2 separate regions of the Homo sapiens genome follow, and region 1 is linked to region 2. Evidence: fine-mapped expression QTL. A gene starts in region 2. The other region holds a variant in brackets. All regions are shown on one strand. Distances are between the middles of the regions. Region 1 overlaps MTAP (methylthioadenosine phosphorylase). Region 2 holds the start of CDKN2A (cyclin dependent kinase inhibitor 2A).

Region 1 (5,385 bases), 120 kb after region 2:
CCAACATGATTGGAAGTTTCCTGAGGCCTCCCCAGAAGCTGAGCAGATGCCAGCATCACGTCCCGTACAGCCTGTAGAACCATAAGCCAATTAAACCTCTTTTCTTTATAAATTACCCAGTTTTAGGTATTTCTCCATAGCAATGTGATAACAGACTAATACAGATTTCAATATGGTATCGGAGAAAATATCTCAGATGTATAATGGGTTAATATGGTCTAGAAAGATGTGGCTGTTCTCTTCATGTCCACAGCCGAAGGGATTACAATGTTAAAACTGTTGCTACACTGGAAAACCAAACAGGTACGTTTCTCCTTAGAAAATTATTCCAGCTACTAAAGAAAAATATTATGGAATTAAAATACCACCATTTTTATGGCTCCCAGTGAATTAATGGATTGGCTGCTAACATCACAAACCGAACCAAACAAAATCCCAAATAAACCACTCATTATGTGCTTCCTGATGAAAAAATAAAATGCTACCTTAAGACACCTGAATCTGATTAAATTTCTAAATCTAGCTACCAATTTATAGACAATACAGAGGACAGAGAAGCCTATTAAACTACTCCAAGGAGATGATTTCAGCAATTCAGACTGTGGGAAACTCAACAGGACAAATGATCTGGTTCCTTCATAAAAAGCTTGCAACCAAAAGAATAATTTAAGGCATTTAACCAGAAATTTAAATTCTGGCTGGGTATATTAAAGAATTATTATTGGAGAATGAAAATGATAATGTGCTCATGTTAGATACCTCCTGAAGTGTTTATGGATAAAATTATTGATGGGAGTAATAATCATATTGGTTGTAAGTTAATATAATGGTTGAAGCTAGATGCTGAATTCATGGAAGCTCGTGCTATTAGCTACTTCTGTATATGACTAAAATAGCTTCATAAGAAAAAGTTGAAGAAAGTGAACACAAAATTACCATCAGAGATAGAGTACTTGACATGCCTTCCTATGCTTCGAAGAAATCCAGCATTCAGGGACACAAGGATTACATCTTTCTATTTCCTTAAGCATAGTCCAGATCCCACCCACAAACACCAAGATGTGTATAGGAAAAAATGATGAACACTGTAGCAGAGGGGAGTTTGCACTACTATGGGAACACAAAGCAGTGACAGGCTGGGTATCTGCCAGGCACATGTAAATGATATGTTTTAAGCTGAGTCTTTGAATGCAGACATGAAGCATCCAAGAAATTTGCCTTGTATTTACTCATTTCCTTATATATTTTTCCTGTGACTGGTTATTTCTGTATAGACACTGACCTCCCTTCTCTTTGTTCCAGCTGTTGGGCTTCACCCAAAATGTCCTTCCTACTGACCTTCCCAAAATAAACCCTCTCTTCAAGGTGCAGTTTAAATGCTTTTCCCTGATACTACCCACCTCTCAGGCCCCCCACTCCATCAGAGCCACCATCTGATGACCACCCTCTTACAAGCCAGCATTATACTAGCTTTTTTACATATCTCATTTGGTTTAATTCTTCCAGTAATCTTTCAAGGTCTAACTGACTAAACAATGACTAAACAACCTCCACTCCTCACCCAGAGCCCTGGCTTCATTCTACAGAAGAGTAAACAAGTGAAATAACTCGCCCAATGTGACAAGCAAATGGAGCAACTCAAATCTGAAGATGGGTTTAGAGAACTCCAAATCCTTTTTGCCATGCCAGGCTGCAACACACGATTGGCTGAAATAATGCCATCTTTCTGTGGGCCTTCCTTGTAGCATTTAACACTGTCTTCAAGCCTTTCCACTTACAGAGCTTAATTTCTCTGCTTTTCAATAAAGTAGCTCCAGCTGACTATTTCCCCAACCTCATTTGGCTACTAAAGGAAATCACTGCTGGTTCTACAAAGGAGGAGACATATGTTATTAGACTGAGCAGAAAGCCACAGGCAGGAAGCAAACCGCTCTCAGGGTGTGGCAGGGGCTGGAGTTTCCTATTAATTGGAAGCAGCTTCTTGACATTACGAGGCTGAGTTGTTCCTTAGGTTACCAAAGCTGCCAAATAAGATATTATGTTGTGACTTAATGTAATAATTTGCGAATCTCTTACATAAAAGGCATCCTAGTACTAAGCAAACAGTTTATTACACTGAAGAGTCATCATAAGGAATTCATGAAAAACAAAGAACCTGTGTTCATCTATGACCCAAAACACTGTACACATTAGATAGTAAAACAAACTCTCTAAAACGGTGGTACAATATTAGGCCTCTTTGGAGATGTCACTTACCCTAAATGTGCTCAGAAAGTCACCCCTAAATGTTTTCCTTACTTCAAAAGTGACTGCAGTTTTGTCGTCCCTTTATCTTAAAATGAGATAAATGACAGGACGAACGATCTAGTTTATTCAAGTAACACAAGGAATAAAAAGAGAAAGAGGTGAAAATTAGATTAAAAGAGACAAGAGGTAATCATTAAAATACAACATATGGATTGTAAGGGATTCTGATTTGATCAAATTGTTAAAAATTATGAGACTGAAGGAAAAAGGAATAGTCTGAATATTTGATTATATTAAGAAATTAATATCATTATTTTTGTACAATGATGGCATGGTTATAACTTAATTTTAAAAAGACCTTTTAGGAAAATATTTACTTCACAATGAGGGCAGGGGAGAAATAGGTAGGGACATACCTATCACACAAGATTGGCCATGGCTAATTGTGGAACCTAAGTGATGGGTACCTGGAATTCATTATATTCCACCCTGTACTTACACAGATGTTTAAAGTTTTGTTTTGTTTTGTTTTGGAAGCTGACCTCATTGTTCCAGTGTC[C/T]TCAAATTCCAGCTGGATCCTGCTGCCTTCCCTGCCTGAACCCCTCACTGTCCTTCCATCTGAAACCCTTACCATGGTCTGTATGGCCTGGCCCTACTGTATTGCATCCCTCCTCTCTCTCCCTTCTCCCCAGTCTCCCTCCTTTCCACTCTACTCAATCATGCCCTTCTTGCCCATCACACTTAAAACAGGAAGGCTTCTCATACTTCAAATATTTGGTCTGGTCAACTCTATTCAGTTGACCTAGTGTACCCTTGTACCTCACCATTCTATTTCTTTATAACCGTTAGCTTTCTTATATTGGTTTGCTTAACTTCTATCTCCATCCGACAGAATGTCGGCTCCTTAAGGACTTCTCTGTTTGTTGTCACATTTCTATGCTGAACAGAGTATCCAGCCACGGTACGTTAAATAGATGGATGTGAACATACAGCCCTCTCATGAGGAAAGGGTTAATAGATTTTTTTCCTTCTTGAAAACAAAAAACAGTAGCATAGCAGCAGAAATTGGCAATCAAAATACACCTTTATCCTGAAAATAAGGCCCAAGTCTTAGTATGATTCTCAACACATCTACCTGCCTACAATGTACTATTTTCACTACTGATCCTTGGGTAAAAGTGTCTCTTTCTTTCCTTTGATCTTTGTTCTTACCTTCCAATGGAACTACAGAAAATATTAACAACTTCAAAACCTTGTAGAAAGGCACTTTCTGAAACTAACGTAATAGAAACAAACAGTTAAGACACCCTATTGGCACCCAGAAACCCATGCTATATGTGCTTAGAAAAGAATTCCACCTACTGCTTCCTCGTGCTCCTTCCAGCAGTCATAATCTGTCGCCATGGCGATACTTGCGTAACAAATTCCAGCCTCCTTAGCAAGAACCACCTCTGGAACTGTGGTCATGTTGATAACATCCGCCCCCCAGGTGCGGAACATGAAGCTTTCTGCCCGGGAGCTAAAACGAGGTCCCTCGATTGTGACCATTGTCCCCTTTGAGTGGCACCGGAGTCCTAGCTTCTTAGCAGTCTCTATAAGAACCTAGAAAAGAAAAACCAGAAACTTCAAAACATACTAGCACATGCACAACTTAAGGCTGCACTTCCCCCCAATGTTTACCAAGTTGATTTCTTAAAGATGATTTGTCACTATAATAAATGCCTACTATCTGCCAGGCTCTCAGAAAAAACCTAGAGGACCACAGAAGGGTGTTTCCTGGACCCTTTCTCATTCACATAATCCTGTTTCCCCAGCCCTTTGCATGTAGAAACTAATAGCTACACAAGCAAGCACTGAGCTCTTTCTACTCGCCAGGCATTTGTTTATATGCTTTAATCTCATTTGCTTCTTAACAACTTTAAGAGACTAAGCTGGTTTGAGAATACAGACTGGAGTCTTAACTTTTAACCTCGCAGGCTAAGCTAAGGTGCCTCTCGTCGCTTATCTTCTCAAACAGGTGTGTTGAGTTCTATTTCCAGGCTTCTGAAAAGTTAATTCTCATTACTTTTAAAAATACAGAATCTGAAGACTTCTGTAAAAGCTTTTGCTGGTTAGAAAGTGATTTCTCTTTTGCCTATTGCCTTTCCACAGAGTTGTGCTGATTGTTTTTCTGTTCACAGGGATAAACATCTTGGAATTCCTTTAGTGGCAAGGCTAGGCATGGATTTTTAGAAACATCATTGAAAAGTTCGATCCTTTTCTCCAGTGTTTTATTTAATACTGCACATCTAATCTTCAAGTTATTAATTACCTTCATTTTTTCTTAGCTTATTCAATATTCCCTTTTAATTAAAAAAAAGTCTTTTCAACTTAACTGTTAACTTACTGAAGCACTGTTGAAAAATCATCTCTGTATGCCTTAGTTTTCTCAAGTGTAAATTGAGAATAATGATATCGCATAATTCAATTGTATGAGGAAGATTAAATGAACTAAGGTATATACAAGCATAGAAGCATGCCAGGTGCGCTGTAAACACTGTATGCACTAAGCTGGTCTTCTAACAATCATTAATACTGGCAGCTTCTACACATATTTGGCTAACCTTCCTGGGATACTATATAAATAAAGTGGAGTGACTCAAAGTCAAAGTCTCCAATCTGGGCAAAGTCTCACCTGCACATGTGTTCATCACATAAACAAATTAACCTATTTCCTTAAAAAATAACTTACACTATGCCACTGCAATGGGAAACAGAATTTTCACAAGAGTCTTGGCAACTCAAAATTTAGCAAGCTATGGACAATGAACAGTTGATGCTACATCATGTTTATCTTATAAATGCTGAAAATAAAATTATGCTTAATTAACACTTTTCCCTAAAAAGTATATGTTATAAATGCAAAAGCCTAAATCTCTACCCCACCCCCTTTTCCCCCCTAAAGTTAAGACATAACAAGCCCACTCCCGCTGGTTCAATAATGTCTTTAAAGATCCTGAATAACTGAACCATATGCTTGGCTAAAGTTCACAGTGCTTCTAGAGATGAATGGCTCTTGACAAGTCCTCACTGTCACTCTGGCACTTTGGGAGATAGGTACCATGCTTATGAGGAGGAGGAAGAAATGGAGGCTATGAA
Region 2 (5,385 bases):
GGAATCCATGGTAGAGTTTCAGAGAAATCCCTGAATTCACTGAAAGTTTTATCTAGAAATACATGTGCAAGTGAACACATCTTTTTTAAAAAAAATCATTACCTACTTTCTTTTTTGAGAAGAAGGTATTTATTTCAACAGACTCTTGAAGGAGCCTACTCTTCCCACTCTCCCACCCCCATTAAGAACCACTGTAGGCCGGGCACGATGGCTCATGCCTGTAATCCCAGCACTTTGGGAGGCTAAGGTGGGTGGATCACCTGAGGTCAGGAGTTCGAGACAAGCCTAGCCAACATAGTGAAACCCCGTCTCTACTAATAATACAAAAATTAGCTGGGTATGGCAGCATGTGCCTGTAATCCCAGCTACTCGGGAGGCTGAGGCAGGAGAATTGCTCGAACCCGGGAGGCGGAGGTTGCAGTGAACCGAGAGAGATCGTGCGGTGCCATTTCACTCCAGCCTGGGCAACAGAGCGAAACTCCATCTCAAAAAAACACACAAAACAAACAAACAAAAAGAAAGAACCATTGTATTAGTGATGGAAATGTGTTCCCTCCCTCCCATCCTGGCAACCACTTTCTTCCTCCTCCATCATAAAATATCTTAAACTAAACTAAAATAATTTTATTTATCGATAGTTTGAATTTTCCCTATCATTGCTACACAGCTAATTGAGAGGTACCCCGAGGAAAATATAAATGGTACAGTAATGCATTGTAGATTTTAATAACATACTTGACATCCCAAATTGTTTTCATTGGCTTCATTTTAAAAACTACATGTTTTAAAATCAAGCAGACACTAAAAGTACAAGATATACTGGGTCTACAAGGTTTAAGTCAACCAGGGATTGAAATATAACTTTTAAACAGAGCTGGATTATCCAGTAGGCAGATTAAGCATGTGCTTAAGGCATCAGCAAAGTCTGAGCAATCCATTTTTTAAAACGTAGTACATGTTTTTGATAAGCTTAAAAAGTAGTAGTCACAGGAAAAATTAGAACTTTTACCTCCTTGCGCTTGTTATACTCTTTAGTGCTGTTTAACTTTTCTTTGTAAGTGAGGGTGGTGGAGGGTGCCCATAATCTTTTCAGGGAGTAAGTTCTTCTTGGTCTTTCTTTCTTTCTTTCTTTCTTTTTTTCTTGAGACCAAGTTTCGCTCTTGTCTCCCAGGCTGGAGTGCAATGGCGCGATCTCGGCTCACTGCAACCTCCGCCTTCTCCTGGGTTCAAGCGATTCTCCTACATCAGCCTCCGAGTAGCTGGGATTACAGGCATGCGCCACCAAGCCCCGCTAATTTTGTATTTTTTAGTAGAGACAGGGTTTCGCCATGTTGGTCAGGCTTGTCTCGAACTCCTGGCCTCAGGTGATCCGCCTGTCTCGGCCTCCCAGAATGCTGGGATTATAGACGTGAGCCACCGCATCCGGACTTTCCTTTTATGTAATAGTGATAATTCTATCCAAAGCATTTTTTTTTTTTTTTTTGAGTCGGAGTCTCATTCTGTCACCCAGGCTGGAGGGTGGTGGCGCGATCTCGGCTTACTGCAACCTCTGCCTCCCGGGTTCAAGCGATTCTCCTGCCTCAGCCTCCTGAGTAGCTGGAATTACACACGTGCGCCACCATGGCCAGCTAATTTTTGTATTTTTAGTAGAGACGGGGTGTCACCATTTTGGCCAAGCTGGCCTCGAACTCCTGACCTCAGGTGATCTGCCCGCCTCGGCTTCCCAAAGTGCTGGGATTACAGGTGTGAGCCACCGCGTCCTGCTCCAAAGCATTTTCTTTCTATGCCTCAAAACAAGATTGCAAGCCAGTCCTCAAAGCGGATAATTCAAGAGCTAACAGGTATTAGCTTAGGATGTGTGGCACTGTTCTTAAGGCTTATATGTATTAATACATCATTTAAACTCACAACAACCCCTATAAAGCAGGGGGCACTCATATTCCCTTCCCCCTTTATAATTACGAAAAATGCAAGGTATTTTCAGTAGGAAAGAGAAATGTGAGAAGTGTGAAGGAGACAGGACAGTATTTGAAGCTGGTCTTTGGATCACTGTGCAACTCTGCTTCTAGAACACTGAGCACTTTTTCTGGTCTAGGAATTATGACTTTGAGAATGGAGTCCGTCCTTCCAATGACTCCCTCCCCATTTTCCTATCTGCCTACAGGCAGAATTCTCCCCCGTCCGTATTAAATAAACCTCATCTTTTCAGAGTCTGCTCTTATACCAGGCAATGTACACGTCTGAGAAACCCTTGCCCCAGACAGCCGTTTTACACGCAGGAGGGGAAGGGGAGGGGAAGGAGAGAGCAGTCCGACTCTCCAAAAGGAATCCTTTGAACTAGGGTTTCTGACTTAGTGAACCCCGCGCTCCTGAAAATCAAGGGTTGAGGGGGTAGGGGGACACTTTCTAGTCGTACAGGTGATTTCGATTCTCGGTGGGGCTCTCACAACTAGGAAAGAATAGTTTTGCTTTTTCTTATGATTAAAAGAAGAAGCCATACTTTCCCTATGACACCAAACACCCCGATTCAATTTGGCAGTTAGGAAGGTTGTATCGCGGAGGAAGGAAACGGGGCGGGGGCGGATTTCTTTTTAACAGAGTGAACGCACTCAAACACGCCTTTGCTGGCAGGCGGGGGAGCGCGGCTGGGAGCAGGGAGGCCGGAGGGCGGTGTGGGGGGCAGGTGGGGAGGAGCCCAGTCCTCCTTCCTTGCCAACGCTGGCTCTGGCGAGGGCTGCTTCCGGCTGGTGCCCCCGGGGGAGACCCAACCTGGGGCGACTTCAGGGGTGCCACATTCGCTAAGTGCTCGGAGTTAATAGCACCTCCTCCGAGCACTCGCTCACGGCGTCCCCTTGCCTGGAAAGATACCGCGGTCCCTCCAGAGGATTTGAGGGACAGGGTCGGAGGGGGCTCTTCCGCCAGCACCGGAGGAAGAAAGAGGAGGGGCTGGCTGGTCACCAGAGGGTGGGGCGGACCGCGTGCGCTCGGCGGCTGCGGAGAGGGGGAGAGCAGGCAGCGGGCGGCGGGGAGCAGCATGGAGCCGGCGGCGGGGAGCAGCATGGAGCCTTCGGCTGACTGGCTGGCCACGGCCGCGGCCCGGGGTCGGGTAGAGGAGGTGCGGGCGCTGCTGGAGGCGGGGGCGCTGCCCAACGCACCGAATAGTTACGGTCGGAGGCCGATCCAGGTGGGTAGAGGGTCTGCAGCGGGAGCAGGGGATGGCGGGCGACTCTGGAGGACGAAGTTTGCAGGGGAATTGGAATCAGGTAGCGCTTCGATTCTCCGGAAAAAGGGGAGGCTTCCTGGGGAGTTTTCAGAAGGGGTTTGTAATCACAGACCTCCTCCTGGCGACGCCCTGGGGGCTTGGGAAGCCAAGGAAGAGGAATGAGGAGCCACGCGCGTACAGATCTCTCGAATGCTGAGAAGATCTGAAGGGGGGAACATATTTGTATTAGATGGAAGTATGCTCTTTATCAGATACAAAATTTACGAACGTTTGGGATAAAAAGGGAGTCTTAAAGAAATGTAAGATGTGCTGGGACTACTTAGCCTCCAATTCACAGATACCTGGATGGAGCTTATCTTTCTTACTAGGAGGGATTATCAGTGGAAATCTGTGGTGTATGTTGGAATAAATATCGAATATAAATTTTGATCGAAATTATTCAGAAGCGGCCGGGCGCGGTGCCTCACGCCTTGTAATCCCTTCACTTTGGGAGATCAAGGCGGGGGGAATCACCTGAGGTCGGGAGTTCGAGACCAGCCTGGCCAACAGGTGAAACCTCGCCTCTACTAAAAATACAAAAAGTAGCCGGGGGTGGTGGCAGGCGCCTGTAATCCCAGCTACTCGGGAGGTTGAGGCAGGAGAATCGCTTGAACCCGGGAGGCTGAGGTTGTAGTGAACAGCGAGATGGAGCCACTTCACTCCAGCCTGGGTGACAGAGTGAGACTTTGTCGAAAGAAAGAAAGAGAGAAAGAGAGAGAGAAAAATTATTCAGAAGCAACTACATATTGTGTTTATTTTTAACTGAGTAGGGCAAATAAATATATGTTTGCTGTAGGAACTTAGGAAATAATGAGCCACATTCATGTGATCATTCCAGAGGTAATATGTAGTTACCATTTTGGGAATATCTGCTAACATTTTTGCTCTTTTACTATCTTTAGCTTACTTGATATAGTTTATTTGTGATAAGAGTTTTCAATTCCTCATTTTTGAACAGAGGTGTTTCTCCTCTCCCTACTCCTGTTTTGTGAGGGAGTTAGGGGAGGATTTAAAAGTAATTAATACATGGGTAACTTAGCATCTCTAAAATTTTGCCAACAGCTTGAACCCGGGAGTTTGGCTTTGTAGTCCTACAATATCTTAGAAGAGACCTTATTTGTTTAAAAACAAAAAGGAAAAAGAAAAGTGGATAGTTTTGACAATTTTTAATGGAGACGGGAGAAGAACATGTAGAAAAGGGGAAATGATGTTGGCTTAGAATCCTAACTACATTGGTGTTTAATATAGGAACATTTATTTATATAACATTTTAAAGTACTAAATTCATATTAGTATATTATCAAATGGATATATTATCAAATGGGTTTAAGCATCCTACACATTTTAATTCAATTGATTCATTTTCTTTTTGCTTTGGATTTCTATCATGATTTAAATATTTACATATGGGTTACTTTTTAGATTTTTCATACTATGAAATATAAGAAAAACCTTTAAGGCTAGTTTTATGACCAAGACGAAGGACTTCATTGAATACACAAAACAATAAATATACTGCAACATTTTGTCTTTCTTTTTGTAGCTGCAATTTGGTTTGCTTATACTTTCTCTTTGTCTCTTTGAAAACTGAGTCAGTTTCACTTTCTCAGGACAGGATTTAATAACCATAATATAATTTAGTATAATTCCTTGATTTAGGCAAATTATGCAATTTGTGTTTAGTATGAAATGTACCTAAAAATAAGTAACTCCTCTTTAACACCACCATCCTCAAACTAATATAACAAATAACAGTTATCCTAAAATAAATTGTCTACTTCCACCATGCAGCACTCAAATTTTAAGGTTGCTATGACTGCAGACAGTATTTTAAAATTCCTCTCTGGAAATGGCTTTGTTTCCAAGATGATTTAGGAACCAAAGAGGTGACCATCTCTTGTTTAATGAACTCTCAAATCATAAACCTGGGAAGTGTTTTAGTTTCCTACTGCTGCTGTTACAAATTATCACAAATGTGTTAGCTAAAACAAACACAAAATTATTATTTTACAGTTCTAGAGATCAGAAGTCAAAAATGGGTCCACAAGGTTTCATTCCTTTTGGAAACTCTAAGGGGCAATCTGTTTCCTTGTCTTTTCCAGCTTCTAGTGACCATCAAATTC

Evidence for each region. PIP is the estimated chance that this variant, and not a neighbour inherited with it, causes the effect.
Region 1: its variant is the best candidate, but not a certain one, in a credible set for the expression of CDKN2A in lung (TOPMed, PIP 0.78).

What each region holds. Positions count from the first base shown.
Region 1 is chr9:21,853,095-21,858,479 of GRCh38, reverse strand. It overlaps MTAP (methylthioadenosine phosphorylase), which reads right to left. Exons shown (of 8, transcript NM_002451.4): 6 at 3,610-3,849. Among named protein-coding and RNA genes, the nearest start is that of MTAP, 53 kb to the right of the region's middle. The variant C/T (reference allele first, on the strand shown) is at 2,807.
Region 2 is chr9:21,972,477-21,977,861 of GRCh38, reverse strand. It overlaps CDKN2A (cyclin dependent kinase inhibitor 2A), which reads left to right and starts at 3,005. Exons shown (of 3, transcript NM_000077.5): 1 at 3,005-3,184. The coding sequence starts at 3,035. RefSeq lists an enhancer at 2,448-2,497 and silencers at 2,678-2,777, 2,998-3,047.